Regions from separate parts of the Homo sapiens genome. Here region 1 is linked to region 2. The links come from fine-mapping of genetic effects on gene expression. Tissue or cell type: nasal epithelium. Region 2 holds a variant in brackets; the other region holds the start of a gene. All regions are shown on one strand. Distances are from middle to middle. Region 1 holds the start of MERTK (MER proto-oncogene, tyrosine kinase). Region 2 has its middle 23 kb from the start of TMEM87B.

What was found.
Region 1: MERTK starts here. The variant in region 2 is fine-mapped to the expression of MERTK in nasal epithelium (TOPMed, PIP above 0.99).

What each region holds. Positions count from the first base shown.
Region 1 is chr2:111,896,962-111,899,868 of GRCh38, forward strand. It overlaps MERTK (MER proto-oncogene, tyrosine kinase), which reads left to right and starts at 1,646. Exons shown (of 19, transcript NM_006343.3): 1 at 1,646-1,835. The coding sequence starts at 1,775. RefSeq lists an enhancer at 785-1,114.
Region 2 is chr2:112,030,601-112,033,507 of GRCh38, forward strand. No RefSeq gene overlaps it. Among named protein-coding and RNA genes, the nearest start is that of TMEM87B, 23 kb to the right of the region's middle. The variant G/A (reference allele first, on the strand shown) is at 1,615.

The sequences.
Region 1 (2,907 bases), 130 kb before region 2:
TGATTTCCCCTAAAGCAGGGATGGGTAAGCCTGGTGAGGAGCCACTGGTAGGCAGTTTCCTATCCCTACCCCATGGGAGACTGCTGCAAGGCCATTTCTCTTCCTTCTCCAACGTTTCAGTTGACTGCAGGACTTTCCATATCCCTCCCTCCACCGCCCAGCCCGCTTCCCTCCAAGCATACAGCGGCAGGCTCCTGTGAAGTCTATAAAACTGCTTGGTGTAATTTAGACTTGGCTACTCAGCGGCAGGGCTCATGTTGTCTTATTTATTTATTTATTTATTTATTTATTTTTGTTAAATTATGTAGACCCATAGGATAACACTGACCCTTCCAGTTTGGTGTTATCTTGTAGGCCTAAGGATGCATGGAGCTGACACCACACTGATTTTGCTTTTGCTGTCGGTGTAAGTAATAACCTGTCTAAACCCATCTGGGCTGCCTGTCTCCTTCCCGTAGCCAAATCTACGGGAAGTGTCCAGCCAGTGTAGGGGTCAAGGGACCGCTTGACGAGACCAACGTAAATTGAAGAGGCGTAAGGAGATGAGGCCAAAGAGGAAAGGGGACCAGGTCACGTAGAACCTCGTAGACCACTGCAGAACCTTGGCTTACGTACGCAGAGACAGCAGGAACCACTGATAGGTTTAGGGAGATTTGAGGAGAGGGACATGATTTGGCTTATGTTATGTTGTTAAAGGGACCACATTAAAATACATTCATTCTAAAAGTGTTACCTTTAAGAAACTACGTATATAAATTAAGTTACTGTTGCCATTATTAGCGTAAGTAGTTACATTTCTCTTACGACTCACTCTCTGCTACTGCCTCTTGGACCCTGCACACCTTGTGGAGGCCCATGAGAGTGACGTGCTGTGGTTCCCCCTCTCCCCACTCCTGCTCTGCACTTTGTCATTCACGTTCATCTCCCTCCTTGAGTGTCACCTCTCTCTGGCTCGTCACGGAGCCACGGCAAAGCGTCCTTTCCCAGGAACCCCTCCCCCTGGGGAGGTGAGCTCCTCGCCGCCAGGGCCGTGTCGCGCACCTCGGGCCGGGTACCCAGGCGGCGCTCGGCGGCGAGCGGAATGGATGTGGAGGAGCGCTCGGCAGGGAGCGCTGCCGCCCTGGCCTTGGCCTCTGGGAGCGGCGCGGCCAGGGTTTTCTGTGTCAGCCAAGCCCGGAATGCGGGGGCGCCTCTGGACCCTCCTCTTGGGTCTGGGGGCTGCCTCGGGCATCCTCTACTCCTCTCCCACCTTCTGTCCTTCCCCATCTCCCACCCACACGTGTGGGGCCCCGGACCCGCGCAGCGGCCAGAGCCTTCCGCTGTGGACCTCCAGTCCACCCCTCCCCTTCACTTCTCTTTCCGGCTCCCTCCGGGTCTCTCAGCCCCCTCCCCTTCCTCTCCGCCCCCTTCCCCGCCGTCTGCCCAGCGGCGGCCTTCGGCCCGCCCCTTCTCTCCAACCCCCTCCCTTTCCCCTTTACGCCCCTCCTCCCCCTCGTCCTCCCGCCCCCTCCCACCCCAACCTGCTGGGCCCGCCGGGACTCGCCCCCCTGCCCGCTCCTCTCCTCCAGCCCCGGCCGGCCTCGGCTCGGCCCCCGGCCCGCCCCTTCCAGCCCTCGGCACCTCCCGCCGGCCGCTTGGCTCCGCCACTCGGCACTCACTGCCCGGGCCGCCCGGACAGGGAGCTTCGCTGGCGCGCTTGGCCGGCGACAGGACAGGTTCGGGACGTCCATCTGTCCATCCGTCCGGAGAGAAATTACAGATCCGCAGCCCCGGGATGGGGCCGGCCCCGCTGCCGCTGCTGCTGGGCCTCTTCCTCCCCGCGCTCTGGCGTAGAGGTGAGTGCGCCCGGCTGGGGGCCAGGCGAGGGGGTGGGGGCTCCCAGGAGGAAGCAGGGGCCTCTGGGGAGGGAGCGCGTCCACAGGGGCGCGCCTGGCTGCTGGACAAGTTTGCAAACACCCTCCACCCACTGCGGTGCCAGAGGAGGGGGCGTAGGCGAACCTACCGTCCACTGACCGCGGCGCCTCAAGCGTCCCGAGGGCACCCAGCCTGGCTTGCGGGTGCGCATCGTGGTGAAGCCGGGTCGGGGTCGGCGTTGCAGGCTCCCCTCTTCACCGCAGAGGAGGAAATCGAGCTCGGCCGGGCGCGCTGCAAGTCCTGAAGTTCCGACGAGTGGAACGTAGGTAGCAGGTCTGGTCTGGGATGCGACGAGAACTTTCCACTAGAGTTGCATGGTGGGGCCCCGCTCTGGCCGGAGTCCCGGGGGCCACAGATCCGGTCTCCCGAGGGACCGGCGCGGGGCGAACGAACGGGCTGCGGGAGTCGGAGCCGCAGTCCGGGAGCCGCGATAGACTGAGGCCGAGCGACGGGCCAGGGGGGGACGGCAGTCCTGGCTGCTCCCAATGGGCCCTTACGGGCATTATTAGTATCCCTTTTTAGGGGCACCCAGAGAGTGTGGGAAAAGGGGAGCGTTCTTTTCACTCCTGTTATGGCAGAACAGAACTTACAGTGCTCGGCAGCGTTTACGTTTATCTGGATTCAGCGAAGTGTTGTTACAGGCTTTTTTTTTTTTAATTTGAGACCGAGTCTCGCCCTGTCGCCCAGGCTGGAGTGCCGCGGCGCGATCTCGGCTCACTGCAGGCTCCGCCTCCCGGGTTCAAGCGATTCTCCTGCCTCAGCCTCCCGAGTAGCTGAGACTATAGACGCGCGCTACCACGTCCGGCTAATTTTTGTATTTTTAGTAGAGACGGGGTTTCACCATGTTGGCCAGGATGGTCTCGATCTCTTGACCTCGTGATCTGCTCTCCTTGGCCTCCCAAAGTTCTGGGATTACAGTCGTGAGCCACCGCGCCCGGCTTGTTCCAGGCATTTTAATACAAGATGCTGGACTGATACGTGGAGGCAAGGAAG
Region 2 (2,907 bases):
GGCCCAGAGCCACTGGCATCTTCAGGCCTGTTTACTCCCCACCAGTAAGCAGCCTCGCCTAGGCCTCTCCCACAGTCTTCAAGAATCAGAATCTACATGGGGTCCAACAGTGTGGCTCTCACCCAGGTTCTGGTCCCAGCTGCCCACCCAGGCACCCAATCTCCAGGGTGAGCCGGCTCCTCTGTTACTGTGAAATGCTCCATATGAAAAAGTTCTGGCCAGATGTGGGGATTCACAACTGTAATCCCAACACTTCAGGAGGCAAGGCAGGAGGATCACTTGAGCTCAGGAGTTCAAGACCAGCCTGGACGACATAGTGAGACCCTATATCTACAAGAAAAAATTAGCCAGAAATGGTGGTGTGTGCCTGTAGTCCTAGCTACTCTGGAGGCTGAGGCAGGAGGATCACTTGAGCCCAGGAGTTTGAGGTTACAATGAGCTGTGATTGTGCCACTGCACTCTAGCCTGGGTGACAGAGGGAGACTGTGTCTCTAAAAATTAAAAAAAAAAGTTCTGAGGGTTTGAAAAGAATCTGTAAAATGCCACCATTACATTTTATTCGTGAAAGAAAAAAAGCTGTAGCTCCTATAAAGATAACTTACACTGTTGAAAATTTTTGGTCATTAAAAAATAAAAAAATTTATCACCTACTTGTATAAACAGTTTCTTATCGATGGTAAGTAGCAGGAAGTTGAAGAACTGATCATTAAAGTCTTGATCAGAACCTGATGGTGACTAGTTCAAACAAAAAAAACCCACCCCAAAATAGAAAGGTATGCTCATATCTATGAGCAAAATAAGTAATTATAAACATTGAAAAATGTTATTTGGAAGTTTAATATAAACTTAATATTAAATATCTATGCTCATATACAGTACTTTGTATTTTATATTTCTAATTTTAACAGCATAATGTAAAAAATGTACAATGAATAGTTCATCAAACACCCCACAGCCCTCTAAATCCTGTCCAGTATCTTCTGTGTGGTCTGAGCAGGGCTGGGGAGCCCGGGCCAGTTCTGCCGCAGGAGAGTGTAGAAAGCTGAGCCAGCTGTGGCTTCTGGCTTTTCTTGAGACATCAAGAAACGTAGCAGAGAAATTCACTTCAGCACACAGCGTGATGCACCCAAGTGTTGGTTAAAAGTGGTGTGATGAATGAGAATGAAGCTGGGCTACCATTGTTCTTCACATTTAAATCTCCGCACTGAGAATGTTGGTGTTCTTCTTAGCCACATCTGAATATTTGAAAATTTGGAAAGAACTAACTTTCAGATGATCCAGTCATTGGCAAACTCTCATACTGTCTTCTGAGCATAAACTGAAAACAGCGTTTCAAATTCTCTTTCATAGAAACTCAAATTACTTTTGTAAGTGGCTCTTGTAGGCAAAAAAAAGGGAGAGAGGAAACAGGAAGAAACAAGTCGGGTTAATTGTCTTAACCGTGCTGGGGCTCAGGATCAGGAGGTCGAAAGGACAAGGAAACAGACATATGCCAGAAGCACTCGTGACTGGCACGTTGAGACTTGCCCTCCCTTGTGAGGATTTTCTTTCTTTTGTGTTGTTTTTTTTTTCCTTTCTGTTGCTTTTCTTAATGAGTAGAAATGAGAATCAAGC[G/A]TCAGGGCAACTCTTGGAAAACAAAAAAAAAAAGACACCAAAGCACTCTTCATGGTGAGCCAGGCCATATGGTCAGAGGTGGGCTGGATAGGAGCTCACCCTGCCAGATGTCCTTGGGCAATCGTGGGCAGGTCACTTGACTTTCCTTGAGCCCCAGTTTTCTCAAGTGTTCAGTAAACATACCAATGCCTTTTTCTGCAACACCCTGTGTAAGAAGGGGAGGAGGCAAGGTCTTCGAAAGAATATTATACTCACAAGAGGCTGTTCTCAATTTGTGGCATCATTCCTTATGCAGTGCAAACCCAGCAACATTTGTCATATTCAAAATATTTTCAGCCAGGCGTGGTGGCTCACGCCTGTAATCCCAACACTTTTGATGGCCGAGGAGAGAGGATTGCTTGAACCTAGTAGTTCAAGACCAGCCTGGGCAACATAGGGAGACCCTGTCTCTATAAAAAATAAAAAAGAAATTAGCCAGGGATGGTGGCATGCAATTGTGGTCCCAGCTGCTCAGGAAGCTGAGGTGGGAGGATCACTTGAGCCTCAAAGCTCAAGGCTGCACTGGGCTGTAATCACACCATGGCACTCTAGATGGGGCAACAGAGCAAGACTCCATCTCAAAAAAAAAAAGAAAAAGAAACATTTTCCCTGATTGTTTCATCAACTCCCTCCAAAATAAACACAGTCATTCATAATTTGAAAAGAGAAAGAGATAGTATTTCGCCTTAGCCAGAAACGCACAGTTGGGGAAGTTCAGAGTGAAGGAGGAGGCCCTCAGTCCTCACCTCAAACAGCCACTGGGCTCAGGAGCTGGAACTACCTTCCTCTTGTCTATCCTGGGGTTTAGCTACTGATGATACAAGCCTCATTGCGCCTCTCCCCAATATGTGGGTTATGACAAGCAATGGTGGCTTGCTTTACCAGGAGCATTTGGGGACATGTGGTGGGTCAGAATGCTATCCCAGGAAGGGGATATTCCCTCTCTGCCTCCATGTCTGCCAGACCTAGCAGAGGTTCCCCACCTGGGAAATGGGCCAAACCACAGTCTCTTCTTTTACAGAGCAGGCTGATTCTAGCCAGACCAGTTCTGATTCATGAAAGTCAAGACTTTTGTAACTTTTCCTGGTCAATGGCAAAAGCAAGTTGGAACTTCTGCTGAGTCCGTGGGAAAGTAACTGACCCAATAATAAACTAGCTACAACAGCAACTTAACTTCTCTAAAGATGTTTAGTAACTGAGTGACAAATGAGAAAATGGGAAGTTTTGTTTTCTTTAATAAATGTTTCAATGATG